7 linked regions of the Homo sapiens genome follow. The protein of the gene in region 1 purifies or fractionates together with the protein of each later gene. This does not show direct contact. Each region holds a gene or a part of one and is shown in the gene's direction. Other genes may lie near its edges.

What was found.
Region 2: the proteins of CA10 (region 1) and CLSTN1 purify together in Homo sapiens (co-immunoprecipitation; 2 studies listed by BioGRID and IntAct, with this or other methods). This does not show direct contact.
Region 3: the proteins of CA10 (region 1) and CALCOCO1 purify together in Homo sapiens (affinity purification with mass spectrometry; 4 studies listed by BioGRID and IntAct, with this or other methods). This does not show direct contact.
Region 4: the proteins of CA10 (region 1) and CERCAM purify together in Homo sapiens (co-immunoprecipitation; 2 studies listed by BioGRID and IntAct, with this or other methods). This does not show direct contact.
Region 5: the proteins of CA10 (region 1) and PIAS4 purify together in Homo sapiens (affinity purification with mass spectrometry; 3 studies listed by BioGRID and IntAct, with this or other methods). This does not show direct contact.
Region 6: the proteins of CA10 (region 1) and PPRC1 purify together in Homo sapiens (affinity purification with mass spectrometry; 3 studies listed by BioGRID and IntAct, with this or other methods). This does not show direct contact.
Region 7: the proteins of CA10 (region 1) and IMPACT purify together in Homo sapiens (affinity purification with mass spectrometry; 3 studies listed by BioGRID and IntAct, with this or other methods). This does not show direct contact.

What each region holds. Positions count from the first base shown.
Region 1 is NC_000017.11:51,634,215-51,637,714, reverse strand, and holds part of CA10 (carbonic anhydrase-related protein 10 precursor), read left to right. Parts: intron 1-1,705; coding exon 1,706-1,860; intron 1,861-3,500. UniProt on the Homo sapiens protein: Does not have a catalytic activity.
Region 2 is NC_000001.11:9,743,966-9,747,465, reverse strand, and holds part of CLSTN1 (calsyntenin-1 isoform 1 precursor), read left to right. Parts: intron 1-2,822; coding exon 2,823-3,071; intron 3,072-3,460; coding exon 3,461-3,500. UniProt on the Homo sapiens protein: Postsynaptic adhesion molecule that binds to presynaptic neurexins to mediate both excitatory and inhibitory synapse formation.
Region 3 is NC_000012.12:53,710,453-53,713,952, reverse strand, and holds part of CALCOCO1 (calcium-binding and coiled-coil domain-containing protein 1), read left to right. Parts: intron 1-52; coding exon 53-252; intron 253-746; coding exon 747-853; intron 854-1,106; coding exon of another isoform or gene 1,107-1,178; intron 1,179-1,831; coding exon 1,832-2,009; 3' UTR 2,010-3,500. UniProt on the Homo sapiens protein: Functions as a coactivator for aryl hydrocarbon and nuclear receptors (NR). Recruited to promoters through its contact with the N-terminal basic helix-loop-helix-Per-Arnt-Sim (PAS) domain of transcription factors or coactivators, such as NCOA2.
Region 4 is NC_000009.12:128,430,857-128,434,351, forward strand, and holds part of CERCAM (inactive glycosyltransferase 25 family member 3 isoform a precursor), read left to right. Parts: intron 1-314; coding exon 315-447; intron 448-3,245; coding exon 3,246-3,373; intron 3,374-3,495. UniProt on the Homo sapiens protein: Probable cell adhesion protein involved in leukocyte transmigration across the blood-brain barrier. Does not express any beta-galactosyltransferase activity in vitro.
Region 5 is NC_000019.10:4,010,736-4,014,235, forward strand, and holds part of PIAS4 (E3 SUMO-protein ligase PIAS4), read left to right. Parts: intron 1-2,187; coding exon 2,188-2,614; intron 2,615-3,500.
Region 6 is NC_000010.11:102,136,040-102,139,539, forward strand, and holds part of PPRC1 (peroxisome proliferator-activated receptor gamma coactivator-related protein 1), read left to right. Parts: intron 1-1,810; coding exon 1,811-1,999; intron 2,000-2,579; coding exon 2,580-2,726; intron 2,727-2,839; coding exon 2,840-2,941; intron 2,942-3,060; coding exon 3,061-3,500. UniProt on the Homo sapiens protein: Acts as a coactivator during transcriptional activation of nuclear genes related to mitochondrial biogenesis and cell growth. Involved in the transcription coactivation of CREB and NRF1 target genes.
Region 7 is NC_000018.10:24,436,670-24,440,169, forward strand, and holds part of IMPACT (protein IMPACT), read left to right. Parts: intron 1-1,285; coding exon 1,286-1,371; intron 1,372-3,500. UniProt on the Homo sapiens protein: Translational regulator that ensures constant high levels of translation upon a variety of stress conditions, such as amino acid starvation, UV-C irradiation, proteasome inhibitor treatment and glucose deprivation.

The sequences.
Region 1 (3,500 bases):
CTTGTCAGTGGAGGATGTTACTATCTGCCTGACTCATTTTATTGAGTCAATGTGAGGTTCCAGCCATATGTGAAAGTCTTCCTTTACCATATATGTGCACAATACTAAACTGAAGAGGTTCCCTCAACCCCTGAAGAATGAGTACTTTCCCACTGGGAGTTAGACACATGGACGAGAGAACATGTGTGCATCCATGGGGCTGGAGAGTCAGTCTCATCCCTCGGCCAGCCAGGCTTTGGGACCCTGCCATGTGTTCTCCAGGTCTCCTGGACTGGCCACAGTGATGGGTGCTCATGGTATGCCTGGGGATGTGATACCTCTAGAGATATAGATCTGGAATCACTGGGATGCAGAAGGCAAGTGAAGCCATGGATGTAGATGAGCTACTCTCAGATGAGAGGATAGAGTAAGAAAAGAAGGGAGCCTTGGACTGATCTTTGGGGAATTGCATCATTGAGAGAAGCAGGTAGAAGATCAGGAGACAGCAACAAAACCTGAGAGAGAATGGCCAGAAAAATGGGAATACTAAGTATGGTATTTTTGAAGCCAGCAGAAGAGAACAATCACGTGCTAAAAGAAAGGAAGAAGGATCATGAAGAGGGGAGAAGAGGAGAGATACATTGCAATTAACTGATATTTTAAAACTCCAATACACACAATTTTATCAAAAATACAACCAATACATTGACTAAAAAAATTAACAGGAAACACACCAAAATGCTAATAGTAACAGTTTTAGATGACTGAAATTGTTTTTTCTTTTTTCCATATAGTCTGTGATGTACTTATGTCATTTTTACCATTGAATTACTGTATTTAGTAATAGAAGATATATGGGTATGAATACCTCAAATTGGTGTAAGAGAAAAGGCTATCTGCATAGACCTGAGAGAGAGAAAAATACACACACACACACACACACACACACACACACACACAAAATAATCAGTTGTTGAGCTTAACCATAGAATCTCATGGTAGGATTTGGCCTGATTTACTTTTCTATCCAAAAATATTTTCTTATTGTTGTTTTAAGTGAGAATGGTCACCAGGTGAATTTCAACAGGTCTAGAAGCTTTAATTGTCCATCTCATGATACCTGTAATGCCTAGGAGTCCAGATCTCAGGGACTAGAATCAAGGACTCCTCAAACAATCCCTGTGGTAGAACGCATTGCTTACAGCTCACCAATGCTCAGGGCCCCATCCTGTGGAAGGAATGTGCTTCCTCGCATCCCCAACATCAGCCTTAACCATGTGACTTCTTTGGCTACCAAAACATGAGCACAAGTGATGTGTGCCACTTCTGGGATGGAAGTTTTAAGAACCAACACACATTCGCCATGCTTTCGCTTCTGTCACTGTGATCCGCACAGGTCCAGGTGTTTACTGCTCTAAGAGTCTAGGTCCCAAAGCATGGACAATGACATGGAGGGAAGCCTCAGCCAACCTGGAATGATCATGTGTGTGAGCAAGAAATACATTCTTATTGCTTAAAACAACCGAGATCTGGGGGACAACTGCTTGTTACTGCAGCCTGTTCTGACAGATAGAGTCTTCTGGAATTCCAAAAGAAATACATATATATCTGTGTGTGTATATATGTATGTATATGTATATGTATATGTATGTATGTATGTATGTATGTCAGCAATACCATCCCTTTCTCAAGAAACCTAATTTTTAAGTCTTCTTTCCTTCTCTAGATGATGCATATTTACTACAGGGGCTTAATATAGAGGAACTATATCCAGAGACCTCTAGTTTCATCACTTACGATGGGTCGATGACTATCCCACCCTGCTATGAGACAGCAAGTTGGATCATAATGAACAAACCTGTCTATATAACCAGGATGCAGGTGAGTTTCTCTCTGGTCATTTAGCTAATGGAGAAGAATGATGTTAAAAAAAAATCACTGAAATGTGGAGTGCCTATTATAATAGTTTACTAGGACCACTATAACAAAGTCCCACAAACTGGGTAGTTTAAACTAACACAAACTTATCGCCTCACAGTTCTGGAGACTAGAAGTCCAAGATCAAGGTGTCAGCAGCGTTGCTTCCTTCAGCGGAATGTGAGGAAGAATCTGTTCCATGCCTCTCCCCTAGCTTCTAGTGGTTTGCTGACAATCTTTGACGTGCTTTGGCATTTAAAAGCACCACCCCAAGCTCTACCTCCATCTTTTTTTTTTTCTTTTTTGAGATGGAGTCTCGCTCTTGTCACCCAGGCTGGAGTGCAGTGGCGTGATCTTGGCTCACTGCAACTTCCACCTCCTGGGTTCAAGCGATTCTTGTGCCTCAGCCTCCTGAGTAGCTGGGATTACAGACACGTGCCACCACGCCCGGCTAATTTTTATACTTTTAGTAGAGATGGGGTTTCATCATGTTGGCCAGGCTGGTCTTGAACTCCTGACCTCAGGTAATCCATTTGCCTCGACCTCCCAAAGTGCTGGGATTACAGGCGTGAGCCACCACACCCAGCCTCTACCTCCATCTTTATAAGGTGTTCTCCCTGTGTCTGAGGCTCTGTGTCCAAATTTCCCCTTTTTATAAAGGCACCTTCTGTATTCCATTAAAGCCTAACCCCAATAAGCTTGTCTTAGCTCATTCCATCTGCAATGACTATTTCCAAATAAGGTCACATTCTGAGCAACTAGGGGTTACCAGTACCTTCAGCTTATGAATTTCAGGGGTACACGATTCAACCCATATGCCTGGGTTTAAAGAGCCAGCATCCAAAAGGCTTAGCCTGAGCTAATTATAGAAGCATCTCAACTGTCTCAGTGGGAAAAGATAGCCATTAATTCCCAGAGTGTATTCTACAACTACAGTGTTCAGAAAGCAAGCAAGCAAAATGGAAGATGTCATTATGCATTTGAAAAAGTTGGGTTTTAAAAAGTTAAATAGATTCCATTGTTGAAGGATTTCTGGGGTCCTTCTTAAATGCTAATATATGTGTCAGTCTTCAAGAGGAAGTGGTATGATATGTAGTATTTTGCACACATATTTGAATGTGCAGTGTTTTTTTTGGATCATCTCACAGAGTTAGTACTCATCAGAACTGGATGGGAGGCAGATGGGTCCTCCTGTGTGAGCTTGGCTACACGGCTTATTGTGCTCTTCAGGCCTGTCACCCACCTCTATGAAATGAACACTCCTCTTCTTTATTGAGAGGGGGATAAATTACATGAGTTTGCTCCAGCTCTGACATTCTACGACTGTGGGAGTCTATAACAAATTAAAGGAGAGATGAGCAAAGGAAGCAGAAGCCAATATCCTTGACGGGATATGTGTTCCCACCTGACCACCATTTGAACAATTTGAAGTTCCTTAACCTATCTGTATTGAATGGGACCCACTGGGTGACAGGCAACAGTAACTCCCCACTTAAGCTTAGAAAAAGCATTTATTTGAGAGCTACGAGGGCATCTTAGAGAATTTAAAATCAGAAATTGACATCAGAAATTCACTGAAATGGGAACCCCAGAAGTGCTTTCTC
Region 2 (3,500 bases), on another chromosome or scaffold:
GAAAACTAGACATTATGCTGCCACAGTCCAATGATGAGCATATGGGGGTGTTTGGCAACTCTGAATCCAAATATTCATAATTGTCACCTAAATATATTTAAGTAAGGAGGTCTGGCACATTTTCTGTTTTAAACCATGCATGTAAGTATAATATATAAAATTTATTCCGTCTCTCATTTCATGGTATTAAGTGAATTTTTTTTCAGCAGAATAAAGTTAGGAAGAATAGAAATAATTTGAGTGCTTACTATGCACCAGGTACTTTTTTTTTTTTTTTTTTTTTTTTTTTGAGACAGTCTCCCTCTGTCGCCCAGGCTGGAGTGCAGTGGCGCAATCTCACTCACTGCAACGTCTGCCTCCTGGGTTCAAGCGATTCTCCTGCCTCGGCCTCCCAAGTAGCTGGGATTACAGGCATGTGCCATGATGCCTGGCTACTTTTTGTATGTTTAGTAGAGATGGGATTTCACCATGTTGGCGAGGCTCGTCTCCAACTCCTGACCTCAAGTGATCCACCCACCTCGGCCTCCCAAAGTGCTGGGATTATATGCATGAGCCACTGCGCCTGGCCTTACTCCAGGTACTTCTATGTGTGTTTTAGCTTAATGTTCCCAACAAGTCTACGAAGTAGGTGGGTATTGACCTTGTTACAGAGGAATTAAACAATTGAGACTAAAGCAGGTTAAGTAGCTTGCCCAAGCCCACATATTCAGGAGCTGAGGTTCTAGTGTGTGTGTGTGGTTTTTTTTTTTCTTTTGAGACAGAGTCTCACTGTCGCCCAGGCTGGAATGCAATCGTGCTATCTTGGCTCACTGCAGCCTCCACTTCCTGTGTTTAAGTGATTCTCCCACCTCAGCCTCCCAAGTAGCTGAGATTACAGGCATCTGCCATCATGCCTGGCTCATTTTTGTATTTTTGTAGAGACAGAGTTTCACCATATTGGCCAGGCTGGTTTGAACTCTTGACCTCAGTTGATCTGCCTGCCTCAGCCTCTCAAAGTTCTGGGATTACAGGCGCAAGCCACCACGTCTAGCTTCAGGAGCTAAGATTTGGACCAAGGTCTTCTGTTACTCAAGAGGCCAGGCTGGTCCAGCCAAGGCCTGCTGCTCCGAGTAATAGCTTAGTCAAGAAGGAGCTTGCAAAATCTTTTCCTGTGGACAAAAAAAAATTTTTTTAATTTGAACATGGCAATACATAAGAATGGTTGGAAAACATTTTTTATGTTTTTTGACTTAGTAATTTCATTTCTAGGAATTTATTTTAAGGGAATAATCATGGAGACACATAAAGCTGTGCATGCAGGTGAGGTTTATAATAGGAAAAGGTTAGGGACAGCCTCTGTGCCCACCTGGGAGGCTGGTCAGTAGGTGATGCTGTATCTGTACAATGAAATGCTATTCAGGCCGAGCGCGGTGGCTCACACCTATAATCCCAGCACTTTGGGAGTCTGAGGCAGATGGATCGCTTGAGCCCAGTAGTTGGAGACTAGCTTGGACAACATGGCGAAACCCCGTCTCTACAAAAACACAAAAATTAGCCGGGCATGGTGGCACACACCTGTGGTCCCAGCTACTTGGGAGGCTGAGGTGGGAGGATTGCTTGAGCTCAGGAGGTCAAGGCTGCGGTAAACCAACGCTGCACCACTGCACTGCAGCCTGGGCGAGAGAGGAGACCCTGTCTCAAAAAAAAAAAAAAAAAAAAAACAACTATTCAGATAGTTTAAATTACATGATAGAAGAATATTGCTAGGAATATATATGTATTATGCACATACATAGCAGGACTCCACTTTTATTGTATTTGTTTATATATTTTTGAGACAGGGTCGCACTCGCCCAGGCTGGAGTATAGTGGCACAGTCACAGCTCACTGCAGCCTCAACCTCCTGGGCTCAAGTGATCCTCCCATCTCAGCCTCCCAAGTAGCTGGGACTACAGGGATGCACCACCACACCTGGCTAATTTTTGTGTTTTTTGTATTGACAGGGTTTTGCCATGTTGTCCAGGCTGGTCTCCAACTCCTGGGCTCAAGCAATCTGTGTGCCTTGGCCTCCCAAAGTGCTGGGATTACAGGTGTGAGCCACCAAGCCCTGCCAGGACTCCATTTTTCTAAGAAAACGCATCATTTTTGTGTATATTTACCAAAGGAGGACTGGGTGTTTATACTAAAATGGTATAATTTGAATCAGATTACAAGAAATGCTTCCTTTCCCTTCCTTTTTGTTTTTTTTTTTTTTTTTTGAGACGGAGTCTCGCTCTGTTGCCCAGGCTGGAGTGCAGGGGTGCGATCTCGGCTCACTGCAAGCTCCGCTTCCCGGGTTCACGCCTGGCCCTTTCCCTTCCTTAAACAAATCCATGGTTGTTATTTTTATTTTTGTAATTTAAAACCCTGATTTTTGAAGAGAAGTAAACTGAAAGGGCCAAGCGTGGTGGCTCACGCCTGTAATCCCAGCACTTTTGGAGGCCGAGTCAGGCGGATCACGAGGTCAGGAGTTCCAGGCCAGCCTGGCCAACATGGTGAAACTCCGGCTCTCCTGAAAATGCAAAAATTAGCCAGTTTTAATGGGGCGCGCCTGTAATCCCAGCTACTCGGGAGGCTGAGGCAGGAGAACAGCTTGAACCCGGGAGGTGGAGGTTGCAATGAACCGAGATCGCGCCACTGTACTCCAGCCTGGGGACAAAGCAAGACTCTGTCTCGAAAGAAAAAAAAAAAGTAAACTGGAGCCAGCAGATTGCCTAAGTGTAAGACAAGCACGTGCCTGGGGGCTTGAGGTGCGCGGGACCTCTGGCTCCTCACATGAGTTTCACCGAGCACTGTGGCTTCAGGTGCGGCCGCGGGCACTGCCGAGCTGCTGCCATCCCCGAGTGGATCCCTCAACTGGACCATGGGCCTGCCCACCGACAATGGCCACGACAGCGACCAGGTGTTTGAGTTCAACGGCACCCAGGCAGTGAGGATCCCGGATGGCGTCGTGTCGGTCAGCCCCAAAGAGCCGTTCACCATCTCGGTGTGGATGAGACATGGGCCATTCGGCAGGAAGAAGGAGACAATTCTTTGCAGTTCTGATAAAACAGGTAGGGTAATAGCTCTGCAAGCGATGCCAGGCCCCAGTGTCCAGTAGGGTGGGTGCCAGCGGCAGGCTCCCTCTCCTTTCCCAGGGTCCCCTGCCAGCCTGGTGCTCGTAGGCCATGTGCCATGCTGTGTGCCTGGGGCACTTGGTTCCCTAGAGCCACGGCCTGGGCATTTGGGTATTAGCTGTTGTTGCTCAGTGGGGTCCACGGTGATCACAGGCTCCGCCTCTCAGGAAAGCCCAAGTGTATTTGTTTCTAAGCCCTGCCTTGGCTTAGCCGAAGAGTTCATTTATGCAGATGAAATTGTGTCTTCAAAATCCATTCAAGAAACAGCTTTAATTTCTCCTTTGGATCTTTAGTTGGCAATTTACCCATAGAAACTGCCTTTGCAGATATGAATCGGCACCACTACTCCCTCTATGTCCACGGGTG
Region 3 (3,500 bases), on another chromosome or scaffold:
AACTCCTCACAACACATCCTTTTTTCTTCTCTGCCTGCTTCATCTCCTACAGGCTGCCCGGCAGCTCTGACAGACTCAGAGGACGAGTCCCCAGAAGACATGAGGCTCCCACCCTATGGCCTTTGTGAGCGTGGAGACCCAGGCTCCTCTCCTGCTGGGCCTCGAGAGGCTTCTCCCCTTGTTGTCATCAGCCAGCCGGCTCCCATTTCTCCTCACCTCTCTGGGCCAGCTGAGGACAGTAGCTCTGACTCGGTGAGCAGTGGAGGAGCCTGTGCAGAAGCAGTAAGGAGGGGCAGGGCCAAACCCAAGTGTCCCAGCCTGGAGTGCAGCACGATCTTGGCTCACTGCAGCCTCTGCCTCCTGGGCTGAAGCGATCCTCCCACCTCAGTCTCCCAAGAGTAGCTGGGACCACAGGCAGGCACCCCCGGCTAATTAGAGAAGGAATCTTAGCTATCCAGGGCTCTCTTTTTCCCAGGGGAGAGGAGGCAGGCCCAGCCTCTCTTCAGTGCCACACCAGTAGATATCATCCCAAAACCCAGACCAGCCCAATAGCCTCACTGCTTCTCCCCCACAGTCATTCTCTTATTATTCACCAGCCCCTCAAAACGCCTCTCCTGCCTCACTCTTCCTAAGCCCCTCAGGTCACTGTCCTAGCCTTGGCTGCTCTTCCCATACCTGTCCCAATGTGCTGCTCCCCCATCTTGGGACACCACCCCAAAGCCCAACCCTGTCTCTTTGGCATCCAGGAGGCTGAAGATGAGAAGTCAGTCCTGATGGCAGCTGTGCAGAGTGGGGGTGAGGAGGCCAACTTACTGCTTCCTGAACTGGGCAGTGCCTTCTATGACATGGCCAGGTGAGTTCAACCAGCAAGGCCAGGAGGGAGGTGGGAGGAGGTCAGAGGGAAAGGGCATCTGTGTGGACAGTCACCAGGCCCTGCTCCCAACCCCTGCCCTTCTTGGCCTCAGCCAAGAAAAGGAGATACAGGTATGGTTAACAAGGAAAATGACTCACTGCTCCAAATCCCAGATGCCTTCAGGTAATCCCTACCCCTATCTTATCAATGCACTCAGAGGTCCTGCCTTTAACTGGCTTCTATGTTGTTCTAGCACCATCTTCTGCAGAGCCCAAATTGCCCTGCTTCCCCTCTCTCCTGCCTCTACCCCTTCCCCAACCACCAGGTAGGTACCTAGGGTCCTCCGGGGAGGAAGGGAGGTGACCATGGCCCCCAGGGATAGGAGCAGAGAGAAGACTGGGATCCAGCATCCATCTGGCTACAACTGAAATGCTTTCCCTCTTCCCTGACTTCCCTGGGTAACCCTTAGGGAAGGGAACCTATAGAGGTGGGGGTTTCAGGTATCAGATTGTCCCCTTCTGCCTTCCCTTTTATTCCCAGGTTCAAGGGGGCAGGCACAGGGAAGAGAGATTTGATCATCTAGTCCCGGTTTTGCCTGGATGTGAGATGGGCTCAGGGCAGGGAGGGGGTGATGCTGTCATCCTTCTCGGCTGGAGCAGGAAGATGAAGGACGATGTCAGACTCATTTTCAGCCTCATTAGGCAGCAGACGGAGATGGAGGGAGGAGAGCAGGAGGCTGGGGGATGGGCTCTGCACTGCAGAGACCAGCAGGGACTAAAGAAGAGAGGACATGGGGAACTGGAAAAATAAGCCTTCCAGGATTGTGGGGAGAAAGACGCTGTGGGAGAGGCCAGGATGCTGCATTAGGCACAGGATAACCTGGGAACCCAGGCACATGGGTCCTGCTCTCCGAAGTCTGCAAGTCAAGAAGGGAACAGAGCACGCCGACCCTCTCCCTTTCCCCTCTGTCTCTCTTAGTGGCTTTACAGTGGGTACCCTGTCAGAAACCAGCACTGGGGGCCCTGCCACCCCCACATGGAAGGAGTGTCCTATCTGTAAGGAGCGCTTTCCTGCTGAGAGTGACAAGGATGCCCTGGAGGACCACATGGATGGACACTTCTTTTTCAGCACCCAGGACCCCTTCACCTTTGAGTGATCTTACTCCCTCGTACATGCACAAATACACACTCATGCACACACACACTCACACACATGCATACACTTAGGTTTCATGCCCATTTTCTATCACACTGGGCTCCATGATATTCTGTTCCCTAAGAACTGCTTCTGTGTGCCCTGTTTTCATCCCAAGATTTCTCACTTCATCCTCTCCTACCTGGCTCTTTTGTCCCAGGGAGGGGTCCTGTTCGGAAGCAGTGGCTGAATTTATCCCCTGAAAGTGGTTTTGGAGGAACCGGGATGGAGGAGGCCTTCCCCTGTGGGAATAGAATCGTCCACTCCTAGCCCTGGTTGCTTCTGATACACAGCCACTGCACACACACACTCACACTCACACTCCCTTGTCTGATGCCCCAAAGCCAATTCCTGGGGCACCCTACCCTCTCTTATTTGGAGTTTCCGTTGGTTTACCTGAGTTTTCTCTGGGGTCTGCACAGAGGCAGCAGCATGGACATCATGGCCTCTCAGGTCCCTTTTGGTTCTCAGTTTCATTGGTTCCTCTTTCTGTTCCCCCATTGACTTCTGTGCCCCACCCTAGCCTTTTCCATAACCTTAGGTATTCAGTTTGGAGGGGTTTTTTGTATTTTTGAGGATTCCTGTATTCTGTATCCTCTCCTCGCATCTCCTCACATGGAAAGAAATAATGTATTTGTGCCTTCTGTGAGGAATGGGGGGAACAAGTGGTCCCAGGTATCCCCATTTCCAAGGCCCCCCTCCCTCTCCAGGTCCCCCCACAGCAATAAAAGCTTCCCCCTGATATCCATCCCTTTGTAGTTTGAACAAATATATTTATATGATATGTATGACTGTTGTCACAAAATGTGTTCTTATCATGAGGTGTGACTGGAACACAGGGCCCAGACCTCCAGCTCTTAGACCCTGGTGGAGGGAGGAGGGAAAGAGGGGACGCATCCCTGCCTCATGGCAGGGGATGCTGGGCAGTTACTGTCCTGTCGTGCCTCCTGGTGTGCTGGCCATGAGTGGGTTGTCTCAAGTGGGAGTCTGGCTTGGATAATGCGGCAGTTGGGGAGGGAGCAAACTCATGGGTCCCTGTCACTTCTGCTCAGGGTTTAGTCCCAGGGTGGGTGCATGCCATGGAAAAGTGGGACAAGTTTCCCACTGCCGAGAACTTCACCCTTCATAGCAGCCATCACTGTACCTTATGCCAAAGGACAGGCTTTATTCCTGTCAAGAGCGTACACCTTTGAGTATCTACTTAGTAAAAAATGCCCTAAGCCTCATACCTCTAAAGGCGATTTTATATTCCTCCTGTTTCTGTTTCTGTTTCTTTCTCTGTTGCCATCCCCTCATACCTGTATGCACACTCTGCCTCAACAGTCACAAAAACACATTCATCCACTCTAACCAGCTTCACAGGCTAGACAGACACATACACAGCATCGTAAAGCATTTGTTAAGGACCTGCACGCTCACCAAGGCTCTCAGCAATGGCCTGCACAAGCACATG
Region 4 (3,495 bases), on another chromosome or scaffold:
AAAAAAAAAAAAACATTAGCTGGGCACCTGTAATCTCAGCTACTTGTGAGGCTGAGGCAGGAAAATCACTTGAACCTGGGAGGTAGAGGTTTCAGTGAGCTGAGATGGTGCCACTGCACTCCAGCCTGGGCAACAGGGGCTCCAGTTCCCCAGGTCCAGTCCCTTGACAGCTTCAGGTCACACAAAGGAGTTACAAGGCAGAAACCTTCTTCAAACCCGACTCCAGTGTGACTGTCCCCAACATGCACAGGCCTGGCCCCTCTGGAGGGGTCTCTGGCAGGCACCCCTCACCCCGCCACACCTGTGTCCCTCAGGATGCTCAACAGCAGTGCCATCAGGAACCTCGGCGTAGACCTGCTCCCGGGCTACCAGGACCCTTACTCGGGCCGCACTCTGACCAAGGGCGAGGTGGGCTGCTTCCTCAGCCATTACTCCATCTGGGAAGAGGTGAGGGTGCCTGCTTCCTCCATCCACAGCCTTCGGGGAGAACGGGGCCAGTTTGTTCTATTCACTGCTCTGTGAACGAGTGAGTGAATGAAGACATTCATCAAAACCTGGCCAGCAGCTTTCAATCTCCTCTGTGTTCAACACCCCAGTGGGCACCACTAAGCGGTGCTTGTTTTCATTCTGCAGTCTCTCTTGAGCATCTACTATGTGCTAGGAGATATTCTGCTCTGAGAACACAGAGGAGGACAGGAACAATGCATGTCTGCTCCTTCCTGCAATAAAGGGATCCCCCTGGGGCTCAGGGACCAGAGCGGGATTATGGAAATCAAAACCAAGCTTGCAGTGGAGGGGAGAGGTATGGGCCACTTTGAGAGGTGCCTCGTGTGGGAGGGGGTCAGAATGGACCTCACCATTGAGGGGCCGGGAGAAGAGGCTTCTAGGCAGAAGAGAACAGTGGGTGCCAAGGCCCTGAGGCAGGAAGGTGTTTAGGAGCAGAAAGAAGGAAGCCTGGGGCTTAGCATGTGCTCAGTACTTGGCCAAGAAGCCTCGGCCCAGGGGCTGGGAGTGTGAGCGCAGGAAAGAGGTTGCTGGACACGGCAGGAGAGAATGGGAACTGGGCCCTCCAAGGGCAGCCCTTCCAGGAGATGGGACATGGATTCCTTGTTTGTGTTCTCTGCTATAGCCAAATATATGTGCACGTGTATGTGAGCATTATGGGTTTTTGTTTTGTTTTGTTTTCTGAGATGGAGTATTGCTCTGTCACCCAGACTGGAGTGCAGTGGCACAATCTTGGCTCATTGCAACCTCTGCCTCCTGGGTTGAAGCGGTTCTCCTGTCTCAGCCTCCCAAGTATCTGGGATTACAGGCATGTGCCACCACACCTGGCTAATTTTTCTATTTTTAGTAGACAGGGGGTTTCGCCATATTGGTCAGGCTGGTCTCGAACTTCCAACCTCAGGTGATCTGCCCACCTCGGCCTCCCAAAGTGCTGGAATTACAGGCTTGAGTCACCATGCCCAGCCTATGTTGGCTTTTTTACCGTCCCTGAACAAATTGGAGGATGACATGGTTCACTACTTTTTTTTTTTTTTTTTTTTTTGAGACAGGGTATTGCTCTGGCACCCAGGCGGGAGTGCAGTGGCGTGATCTTGGCTCACTGCAGCCTGGACCTCCCGGGCTCAAGCAATTATCCCACCTCAGCACCCCCGAGGAGCTGAAACTACAGGCGCGCACCACCACACCCAGCTAAATTTTGTATTTTTTGTAGAGACAGGGTTTCGCCATGTTGGCCAGGCTGATCTCAAACTCCTGAGCTCAAGTGATTCCACCCACCTCAGCCTCCAAAAGTGCTGGAATTACAGGCATGAGCCACCGCTCCTGGCTTCACTACTTTCTGAGCTGATTTCCTTTTCACAGAAGTTATCAAAAGTAGTTTTCCAAAAGTTATTCTAAAGTAACTTTTCCAAAAGTTATCAAAAGTACTTTTTCTTTTGGATATTCGGGGCTGGGGTCTTCCCACCCCCCACCCAGCCCAGCTTCCTTTAGAAAATAGCAGGAGGCCAGGCCAGGTGCGGTGGCTCACGCCTGTAATCCCAGCTGAGGCAGACAGATCACGAGGTCAGGAGTTCAAGACCAGCCTGGCCAACGTGGTGAAACCCCGTCTCTACTAAAAATACAAAAATTAGCCCGGCGTTGGCCGGGCGCCGTGGCTCACGCCTGTAATCCCAGCACTTTGGGAGGCCGAGGCGGGTGGATCACGAGGTCAGGAGATCGAGACCATCCTGGCTAACACGGTGAAACCCTGTCTCTACTAAAAATACAAAAAAATTAGCCAGGCGTGGTGGCGGCGCCTGTAGTCCCAGCTACTCGGGAGGCTGAGGCAGGAGAATGGCGTGAACCCAGGAGGCGGAGCATGCAGTGAGCCGAGATTGTGCCACTGCACTCCAGCCCGGGCGACAGAGCAAAACTCCGTCTCAAAAAAAAAAAAAAAAAAAAAAATTAGCCCGGTGTGGTGGTGGGCACCTGTAATCCCAGCTACTTGGGAGGCTGAGGCAGGAGAATCACTTGAACCCGGGAGGCAGAGGTTGCAGTGAGCCAAGACCATCTTTTGATGGGAACTGCAAGCCACTTCCCCGCCCCCAGAGAGTTGGGCTTCTGGGCCCAGCCACCATCTGTCATGCTTGCACTCAGGCAGCTGGAGGAGTGGGAGGGGAGATGGCTCCTGGTCTTGGCCATGGCTGCTTTGGCCTCCACCGTTCCTGCTCCTCTTCCATGCAGCCCCCTGACTTGGGGGGCCATTTCACTCCAGTCTGGGCAACAAGAGTGAAACTTCGTCTCAAAAAAAAAGGAAAATTGCAGGAGGCCAAAGTGACAAGCTGGGCCCTGGTGTTCAGCAGATGCGGGTTCATATCCCAGCTCTGCCACTTCCTGGCTGTGTGTCCTTGGACAGGCAGTTTCCCATCCCTGCATGTCCACCTCCTTCCTGCGATTGAGGATCATCATCTCCTGCCTCCTGAGGGCCCCTGCAGATACGCAGTGGCACAGCCCTGGGGCACAGTAGCACTCAGGGAATGTAGCAAGGGCCACGGTTACCATCATGATTCTATCTGGAGATCCTCAAATGCCAGAGCGAGGTTGGGATTTCCGGTCCCAGGCAGTGGGGCCCCCAGCAGGCTTTGGGGCAACTGCATGATGTGGCCAGGCCAACTGAGGCCAGGCAGAGGCTGTGAGCTTCAGCGTGGAGGGAGGGGGGTTGTTTAACTCCGAAGAGCCATCTCCCACCCCATTGTATGCCACAGGTGGTTGCCAGGGGCCTGGCCCGGGTCCTGGTGTTTGAGGATGACGTGCGCTTTGAGAGCAACTTCAGGGGGCGGCTGGAGCGGCTGATGGAGGATGTGGAGGCAGAGAAACTGTCTTGGGACCTGATGTAGGCAGCCTGCACCCTCAGGGACAAGGGGGCAGGGTGGGCCTCCGGAGTCTGCCTTTTCCTGCTTGGGACCCTGGCCGGCCCATCCCCTGAGAGCCTGGCCCTGTAGGAGCGGGTGTGGG
Region 5 (3,500 bases), on another chromosome or scaffold:
TACACGATGGGTGTCCTCATTGTGAAATTAGCGACACAGGCCTTGCTGGTGCCTGGTAGGGAGCAAGACGCTGGCATCCCGATTCTTTACAGTCACGGGGCCCCGCAGCCCTGATATGGGAAGAGGCTTCTCCCGAGGCTCTTTGGGCAGGGCTGGGCCGCCTGCACGTGTGTCCCTGTCATTTTGAGCCTGGACAGCCTCTCCGTCTCCAACAGGACCCTGGCCCGATACAGCTGGAAGAAATCAGAGCTGACAGATGAGGACCCGACAGTGGGCCCCGGCTGCTGCAGCTTTGGTGCTGAAATGTGCGGCTAGGCTCCTGGTCTCACCCTGGGGCAGCCAGGAGCCGGAAACCTCAGCGCCTCCTGGCACGGAGGCTGCAGTTTACATACCCCACTGGGACTGCCTCTGGCTTCGACCCTCAGGGTCTTTCGAGTGGAGTTTGAATGGTTTATTGGTTTCTTCGGGTACCCGCCAGCTTTCCTTAACACCCTTGACGCTTGAGCTTTCTCCCCATTCCTCCTGGAAGCTACTGTTTCCCACCACATCTCATTCATCCCAGGCCAGCTTCAGGGCTAAGGGTGGGTGGCCCTGAAACCCTGCCAGCCCATCCCTCGAGGACACCTGGCTTCTGCAGCCTGTTGAGGAGCCTTCCTTCCCCTTCAGGGTCCTACCCCTCATGGAGGTCAGGCCACTGCCAGTCTACCCCACCTCAAACACCAGGGTCAGCTGGGCTCTGCTGTTTGGTTTTTATTTCGCTGGAGAGGCCCGGCCAGGCGATGAGGGCCAGGTCCTGCCAAGCCTCATTTGTCGCTTTGACCCAGGTCCTGCAACAGCCCCTGTGGCTGCTATCTTCCCCTTGGACCGGTCCCCCAGGGACTCAGGGCAACGTGTGGAGGTGTGTTTGGTGTGGAGGTGTGTTTGGTGTGGAGGTGTGGGGGGTGTGGAGGTGTGTGGGGTGTGGAGGTGTGTGGGGTGTGGAGGTGTGTGGGGTGTGGAGGTGTGTGGGGTGTGGAGGTGTGTGGGGTGTGGAGGTGTGTGGGGTGTGGAGGTGTGTGGGGTGTGGAGGTGTGTGGGGTGTGGAGGTGTGTGGGGTGTGGAGGTGTGTGGGGTGTGGAGGTGTGTTTGGTGTGGAGCTGTGGGGTGTGGAGGTGTGGGGGGTGTGGAGGTGTGTGGGGTGTGGAGGTGTGTGGGGTGTGGAGGTGTGTGGGGTGTGGAGGTGTGTGGGGTGTGGAGGTGTGTGGGGTGTGGAGGTGTGTGGGGTGTGGAGGTGTGTGGGGTGTGGAGGTGTGTGGGGTGTGGAGGTGTGTGGGGTGTGGAGGTGTGTGGGGTGTGGAGGTGTGTTTGGTTGTCGTGAGCTGTGGGTATTTAGCACCACACAGAGCCCAGGATGGCCCCAGTGTCCACAGGGCCAAGGAGGAGAAACCCTGCCTGGGATGATCAGCAGATGTTTCGGAGGCCCCCACAGGCCCAGCCCTGTGTTGACATCCAGAGGGTAGTGTGGCAGCAAGAACCGCCCCTGGCTTCAGAGCCAGGCCTGGGTTCGAATCTTGGCGCTGCCACCTCTGAGCCGACAGTTCCTCATTTGTGACAGAGCTCACACACCAGCCTAGCAGGGGTGTTTTAAGGATCAGAGTTAAATATATAATCACATGACCGGCTTGGTTCCCGGCAGGTGATTAGTACTAAGTAAACTGTGGCTACCGTTGGCGAGACCGAAGGGAAAACATATCTGTGGCTGACATGGGTTGAGCGCCCGCCCAGCCAGTGCTTTATGTCATTATCCTCCCGACGTAGAGACTGAGGGTCAGAGAGGCATTTGGTGTTTGCCGGTAAGGCACTGGCAGAGGCTGTTTACAAGTAAAGCACAATTGTCAGTTCCTGCCCTGGGGATGCTTTCAGGCTGAAGACAGGGAAAGAGAACCTAAAATAGAAGGGGGGGCCTAGTCAGAGGCGCTTTTGCTGCGTTGGCGATGCTGGGGAAAGTTTGATGAGGAGGAGGGAGGGGGCAGGGCTTTGCTGGGAGGGGGCACCGTAGGGGCAGGGCACTCCACCAGCCCCAGCCAAGGCTGGCGCTTCCTGGCGAGTGGGTGTCTTTCACGGCCCCCACATCGGGGCCTGGCCTCCATGGAGTCCCCTGCCTCGCAGCTGTGTCCTCTGAGTGTGTGTGTGCTTGCTCCTCCTCAGAACATGGTGATGAGTTTTCGAGTCTCCGACCTTCAGATGCTCCTGGGTTTCGTGGGCCGGAGTAAGAGTGGACTGAAGCACGAGCTCGTCACCAGGGCCCTCCAGCTGGTGCAGTTTGACTGTAGCCCTGAGCTGTTCAAGAAGATCAAGGAGCTGTACGAGACCCGCTACGCCAAGAAGAACTCGGAGCCTGCCCCACAGCCGCACCGGCCCCTGGACCCCCTGACCATGCACTCCACCTACGACCGGGCCGGCGCTGTGCCCAGGACTCCGCTGGCAGGCCCCAATATTGACTACCCCGTGCTCTACGGAAAGTACTTAAACGGACTGGGACGGTTGCCCGCCAAGACCCTCAAGCCAGAAGTCCGCCTGGTGAAGCTGCCGTTCTTTAATATGCTGGATGAGCTGCTGAAGCCCACCGAATTAGGTGAGTGGTCACCCTGGGGAGGCTGCGACTGGAGGCTTCACCTAGGCCCCGTCGCCCAGCCCAGCCCAGCCACACAGCCGACTTCGAGTGATGTTCTCTGTGGCGCAGCCAGGGCGGGGAGCCACAGTGGCCAGGGGTGTCCTTCCTCGGAAGCAAAGGGACCATCTTTGATATTGGTCACCCCTTGCTGTGTTACAAGTTACCCCGAAATGGAGCCACTGGAAGCAGGGGGCGTCTGTTAGCTCTCAGGAACCTGTGAGCTGTGTTGCGGGGCATTGGGGCTTGGGGGCTCTCATGAGGCTCAGTCAGGCTGGAGCCACCTCATCTGGAGGCTCGACCAGGGCTGGAGCAGGCACATCCTTGTGTGGTGGCTGGCAGGCCTCAGCTCCTCGCCAGCTCTTGGCCACAGTCCCCAGGTCCTCATGGTGCGGACTCCTGCACGGATTGCCTGGGCGTCCTCAGCCTGGTGGCTCCCTCACCCTAGGGTAGCGAGTGTGCACCTCCAAGCTGGGAGCTGGAGCCCTTTTTATAACCCAACCTCGGACACGCCTCGCCATCTCCCCCACAGAGTCCGTTGCTCACACAGACTCTGTGGCGCATGCAGGGACCACACCAGGCTGTGACTGCCAGGGCCAGGGGTGACCAGGGCCACCTGGGAGCCTGGTTTCCCTGCTTATTCCCCTTGGAAAGGGGGCTGGCCAGTGGCATCCTTCCCCCGGGCTCTGGTTCCTCGCTGGCAGCCTGCAGGAGTGTCCTTGGTCAGTGGGCTCAGGTCACTGCCAGGCTGTGTGCACCGGGCGTGCTGGGGGTTCAGGGCGATCCCAGGCGGAGGAGAGGTGCTGGGCTCCACGCTTCTCTCTCTCGTGTCTTTGTCTGCAAGCACTGA
Region 6 (3,500 bases), on another chromosome or scaffold:
ATTCCAGCTTAGTCGCTGGGGCTCTGGTAGGTAGGTGGTGGCAGAGCAAATGGAGTTGCAGCCTCTTGGCTCACCCTGGAGTGTTTGCAGAGCCAGGTGCTATTCAGCTGCTGGTTTGTAATTATAGGATTGTGAAGGCCTGGGAGGAGTTAGTGCCTAAAACCTACCACTTTTTGCTTATTCTCTGGGCCTGGCCTCCTAACGCGTCCTTAACCAGCCTTTCCTTTTCCTGGGCGTTGGTACTCAGCTCTGTTAGGAGGGTATATATTGCCGGGGTGTGGGGGGTGGGGGTGTGGAAGACACCTGTTGCTTTTTTCTTTTGGAAGTGGTGCGGAATTTCACTTTGTTGCAGAAGAGGAAAGGGAAGGTCTGGCCTGTCTGTATGTGATCCTGTTCTCAGGCCTTTTTACTTCATGTTTCCTATGCGGTAGTTTCCCCTTATCCACAGTTTCTGTTAACCTGCTGTCAACTGGGGTCTAAAAATACATGAGTACAGTACAGTGAGATATTCTGAGAGCCAGAGAGCCCACATTCGCATAACTTTTATTATAGTATATTGTTTTAATCTATTTTATTATTAATTTCTTATTGTGCTTAATTTATAAGTTAAACTTCATCGTTGGTATGTATTGTTTGTATCAATACATACCAATGTATTGGTAGTATCTGTGGTTTCAGGCATCTACTGGGGATCTTGGAATGTATCCCTCTAGGATAAGGGGGGACTACTGTAGTGGAGATCCCCCTGGCTCTGGCCTCACCACTACCATTCTGGTCCCTTCCGGCCCTGCCCACACCCACACTCTTGACAGGTCTGGGCGGGCTGCTTGATGCCTGACACGAGAGGCCGTAAATGCTGCTAGTTCTTAGAGGAGTGTGGGGCGGGGCCTTTCCATCTAGGGAATCAAGCTTTCTCTTCACTTGCTCTCATCTGGTAGGAGTGGAGAAGAGGCCCTTCCCTTGGAATTACCATTGAGAGGTTGAGTGTCTCACTGTTGGGCCTTCAAAATAAGTGTCGGCCGGGCGTGGCGGCTCACGCCTGTAATCACAGCACTTTCAGAGGCTGAGTCGGGCGGATTACTTGAGATTTGGAGTTTGAGACCAGCCTGGCCAATAAGGTGAAACCCTGTCTCTACTAAAAATACAAAAATTAGCTGGGCGTGGTGGTGGGCGCCTATAATCCCAGCTGCTCCGGAGGCTGAGGCAGGAGAATCGCTTGAACCCAGGAGACCGAACCCATGAGTGTCATGGGGATGGGGGTAGGGGGTGGGGTGTGATTACCAGAAAAGTTAATGCTGCAGAAAAGTCTGTGATTTTAGAGTTGTGAGGAGAGATCACCGTGGGCTGGGGAAGCTGGGGTGTCTTCTTGAAGAAGGTAGGATTTGCACTAAGCAGAGAACTAAATGGGATTTGAGGTAGGTGAGGTTGTTGGAGCTGAAGCTGTCTCCTTGCTGACCTCTTTTGCTTTGGTGTGCCCCTCAGACTGTTATCTTCACTGCTGCCAGTAGATGATTCTGAACAATCTTGATTTTCCTGATGTTTTTACTCCCGGGTTTTAATCTGTGACTCTAGCTGTTTCTGGTTGGAGCCCAAACATTTTTCTGCCCCAGAAGGTCCCTGAAAACTGCCATCCTTATTGGGGTTTTTGCTCATAGGTTGTGCTTCTCTCTGCTCTGCTAGCCCAGAAGTTTGGCGACAGTGTTGCTGCTGCTGAGTTTGGCCCCAGCAGTGGAGGGTACCTGATTTATGGAGCATATTATCAGCTGCTGCCAGAGAGCTCATACCCTTCTCACCTTCTTCTCTGCTCCAGGTGCTGCTGCATGAGGAGGCGGGTGATTCTGGCTTTGTCAGTCTCTCTCGGCTGGGCCCATCTCTGAGGGACAAGGACCTGGAAATGGAGGAGCTAATGCTGCAGGATGAGACACTGCTGGGGACCATGCAGAGCTACATGGATGCCTCCCTTATCTCCCTCATTGAGGATTTTGGGAGCCTTGGAGAGGTGAGCTGGGGCTGGACTCTGAAATCTTCAAGCAGGAGGTTTACATGGGAGGTTCTAGCTCAAATTCTTGGCATGGCTCTGCTCTCCCAGGACCTTAGCTTCTTCCTGGGTGCCCAACCTGAATCCTTGAAGTGTATTTTTTGTCTCTAAGTGGGAATTAGGCTGCAGGCTGCCAGATTATGTCCCATGTAAGAATTCCTTTCCTAGCTTAGACTATAGTCCAAGGCCTTTCCCACTGTCTGGGCCCCTGAACTACATGTCCAGAGGATTCTGATCTCTGTTTTTCAGCTCATTTCTAGCCTAGCCGATGGTTGTCTGCTGAGCATCCCACATCTTATCTGAGGGTAGGGGAATGTGTGAAACCCAAGCTTGAGTCAAGTCTGACAGGTCTCTGTTGACACCAAGAGCTGGTGGATGGTAGCTGAGATTGGAATCCATGCCTTCTGGTATTCAGATCCTTCTCGCTGCCCCATTAGCTGAGTTGAACCTGGGAGACTGATTCTCTCGATATCCAGTCCTTAGTGGCATAGTAGGTCATTAGGGATGTTGGTAGGACCTTCTGGTTGTTTTTCTGGAGCAGAGCAGGTTATCTCTGGAGGACCAGAATGAAGTGTCGCTGCTCACGGCTCTGACGGAGATCTTGGACAATGCAGATTCTGAGAACCTTTCTCCATTTGACAGCATTCCTGATTCGGAGCTGCTTGTGTCACCCCGGGAGGGCTCCTCTGTGAGTGTGGGACCAGGGGAAGGGGATTAGTACAAAGTTTAGACCCATGCCTGTGGACCTACTCATATAGCTCTGAAGCATAGACTGATCTCAGGTCTTTCTTTCCCTCTTAGCTGCACAAGCTGCTTACTCTCTCTCGGACACCCCCAGAACGTGACCTCATCACCCCAGTTGACCCACTGGGGCCCAGTACAGGCAGCAGTAGAGGGAGTGGGGTAAGCCTGACCTAGAGGGTTTCAGAAACTCCCAGGTGGGAGGAGGAGTGTGTGGGGACAGGTCTGGAAAATACTTTCCCAAAGAAAACTCCTCCTGAGACCTCTCTTCTCTCCTGCAGGTTGAAATGTCTCTTCCAGATCCCTCTTGGGACTTCTCCCCACCCTCTTTCTTAGAGACCTCTTCCCCCAAGCTTCCTAGCTGGAGACCCCCAAGATCAAGACCACGCTGGGGCCAATCCCCACCTCCCCAGCAGCGCAGTGATGGAGAAGAAGAGGAGGAGGTGGCCAGCTTCAGTGGCCAGATTCTTGCCGGGGAGCTTGACAACTGTGTGAGCAGTATCCCGGACTTCCCCATGCATTTGGCCTGCCCTGAGGAGGAAGATAAAGCAACAGCAGCAGAGATGGCAGTGCCAGCAGCTGGTGATGAGAGCATCTCCTCCCTGAGTGAGCTGGTGCGGGCCATGCACCCATACTGCCTGCCCAACCTCACCCACCTGGCATCACTTGAGGATGAGCTTCAGGAGCAGCCAGATGATTTGACACTGCCTGAGGGCTGCGT
Region 7 (3,500 bases), on another chromosome or scaffold:
TCCTGAGTAGCTGGTATTACAGGCACGCACCACCACATCTGGCTAATTTTTGTATTTTTTTTGTAGAGATGGGGTTTTGCCAAGTTGCCCAGGCTGGTCTCGAACTCTTGAGCTCAAGTGATCTGCCCACCCCGGCCCACCAAAGTGTTTTGATTACACCACGCCCGGCTCTGGGATGTTCTTATTTCAAAAATCTTCTCATCCAGCTTATAATATTGAAAATTAGGTGACAGAAACTCAGATCAAGTGATTAGTTTAACTTCACACAGCTTAGTGCATTTTAGTGAATAGCTTTACTGTTATATCAACCAATACAAGTATTTAGTTTTAGTACTAGGAATTGTGGGTGTGATGGGGAGGATTTGAGGGTATAGAATTATTTAAAAACAATGTTGTTTTCTTCTGTCTCTTGTTTCGAAAGTTTTGGTGGGTGCTGATGAGTAGTGATAAAGAGAGATAATGGTTTCAAGGGAAACTTTTAGAGGAAGGAGGTGAGGTGTTGCTATATAGTAGTGTGGTGATATCTTTAAACACATACCATACTTACTACAATTAGTGTCTTTTTCTAAAGAGCAGACACTTGGGCCTTTATTTTATTGCTGCTACCATCATTTAACATAACTATGGACATGACTTTAAAACCTGTGACACATTCTTTTTCTCAGTGATCCTTTGAGATGGATTTAGTTACCTGAGGCAACCAAACATCATTTGGAACCAAAATGAATCAATTTAGGCAATAGAATGTTTTGTCAGAAACAAGATATGAATATAAAATTGTTGAATTGTCTTTTAGGTCTTGTAAATTGACTCCCTGAAGGAGTTTCCCATATGCTTTACATTCTTTCTTGTTGAGATAAGTATACTAAATGATAAGTGTACCAAATAAGGGGTTTGAAATTCTTAAAAAACTTTAAAAAAGCAAGCAGTGATCAGACATCGATACTGAAAGATTGTATCCACTTACAGAAACTAAGTCACATTTATATTTCTTTAATCCATCTAGTTTGGAAATGTTTATTCCCCTCTTTGGTTACAGCTCTTCTGCTTATTTTAAAGTAAGCCATGTTAATTTTGGAGTCAACTGGAATTTTTAACGTTGCTATAACCTGTATTAACTACTCAGACACAAATGTTGATAAACCCCAGGTTTTTATAAATTATTTTAAAAAAGAAATGGTTAGATTGTTTATAATGTCTTGGATTGCAAATGTCTGTATCTTCTTGAATTTGAGAAGATGATTTTTGAAATAACAATTTTTTTTTTCCCCTGAATTTTGTTTAGTCAGAATATCGGTGAAAGTATTCTTTACCTGTGGGTGGAGAAAATAAGAGATGTTCTTATACAAAAATCTCAGATGACAGAACCAGGTAGGATTGAAAAATACTATCAATACTCTTTTAACTTATAATAACTACATTTTTATGTAGATACTCTAGTTGAAATTTAATGTGAAAATCTGTATTCTGGTTTATGGTTTGTATATTATAAAATACAAGTTTCTCTGAAAAGTTTAATTGCTCATGTAATTATAGTTATTTATTTCTATAAGGTTTAGCCTCTTTGATTTTGTATTACAGTATTCCTCCTCATCTGAGATTTGGCTTTCCATGGTTTCAGTTACCTGTGGTCACCTGTTGTCTGAAAATATTAAATGGAAATTTCCAGAAATAATTCATAAGTTTTAAATTGTGTGCCATTCTGAAAATGTTATGAAACCTTGGGCTGTCCCATTCTGTCTAGGGTCTTGTCTAGGATTCTACATTGCTTTCCATTGTTGTTTCTCTTTACTCTCCTTTAGTCTGTAAACAGTTGTTCAGTGTTTCCTTGACTTATAACCTTGACACTTATGAAGACTACTGATAGTTATTTTGTAGAATGCCCCTCAATTTGGGTTTGTCCATTGTTTTCTCATGATTGGAGTGAGATTAGTAGCTGGGAGTGGTGGTGTACTCCCAGCTACTTTTAAAATTTTTTCTACAGACGAGGTCTCCCTATGTTGCCCAGGCTGATCTCAAACTCCTAAGCTCAAGTGATCCTCCTGCCTTGATCTCCCAAAGTGCTTGGATTACAGGTGTGAGTCACTGTGCCTATTGTATCATATGCCTTATTATTGGTGATATTTACCTTGATGTCTCGGTTACGGTGGTGTTCGCCAAATGTCTCCACTGTAAATGCTGTAGTCAGGGTTCTCCAGAGAAACAGAACCAATTGAATATATGTGTGTATATACATGTGTGTATGTACCCACACACAAAGAGAGAGAAATATATTTTAAGAAATTGGCTTATACAGTTGTGGAAGGTGGCAAGTCCAAAATTTGCAGGATAGGCTGGCAGGCTGGGGACCCAGGGAAGAATGAATGTTGCGGTTTGAAAACAAAGATGGTCTGCTGGAAAAATGTCCTCTTCTGGGGAGGTCAGTCTTTTAATGTTAAGGCCATCAGCTGATTGGATGAGGCCCATATGGAAGACAGTCTGCTTTACTCAAATTCAACTGACTTAATTGTTAATCTCATCCAAAAAATACCTTCAGAGAAAAATCTAAAATAGTGTTTAACCAAATATATGGGTATTGAGGCTGGGCACAGTGGCTTGCACCTATAATCCCAGCACTTTGGGAGGCCGAGGTGGGTGGATCACCTAAGGTCAGGAGTTCAGGACCAGCCTGGCCAACATGGTGAAACCCCGTCTCTACTAAAAATACAAGAATTACCCAGCACGTTGGGAGGCCGAGGCGGGCGGATCACGAGGTCAGGAGATCGAAACCATTCTGGCTAACACGATGAAACCCCGTCTGTACTAAAAATACAAAAAATTAGCCGGGCGCGGTGGCGGGTGCCTGTAGTCCCAGCTACTCGGGAGGCTGAGGCAGGAGAATGGCGTGAACCCGGGAGGCGGAGCCTGCAGTGAGCCGAGATCGCGCCACTGCACTCCAGCCTGGGCGACAGAGCGAGACTCCGGCTCAAAAAAAAAAAAAAAAAAAAAAAGAATTAGCCAGGCGTGGTGGTACGCACCTGTAATTGCAGCTACTTGGGAGGCTGAGGCAGGAGAATCACTTGAACCTGGGAGGCGGAGGTTGCAGCGAGCTGAGATGGTGCCACTGCACTCCAGCTTGGGTGACGGAATGAGACTCTGTGTCAAACAAAAGTAAACAAATATATGGGTACTGTGGCCTAGACAAGTTGACATGTAAGATTAACCATTGCAGTCACTGTCTTTCTCTTTGTAGCTTGAGGGAGATACTTTGAAGCTATGCTAATATCCTGTTTCTCCTTAAACTTTCTGCCACTAATTTTAGTATCTATCCATGGAACTTGTCAACAATATTTATTACTGTGGTGTTTGCCTGATGATGATTTTCTATTTTCTTCATTCCTTCCTCATTTAGTAATTGGAATTCTATTATGAGGAAGGGATGTCTCTTCCCATTTATGTATTTATTTATCTGTTTATTATTTATATCAGTATGGACTCATGTATATTATTTCAGTCCATGG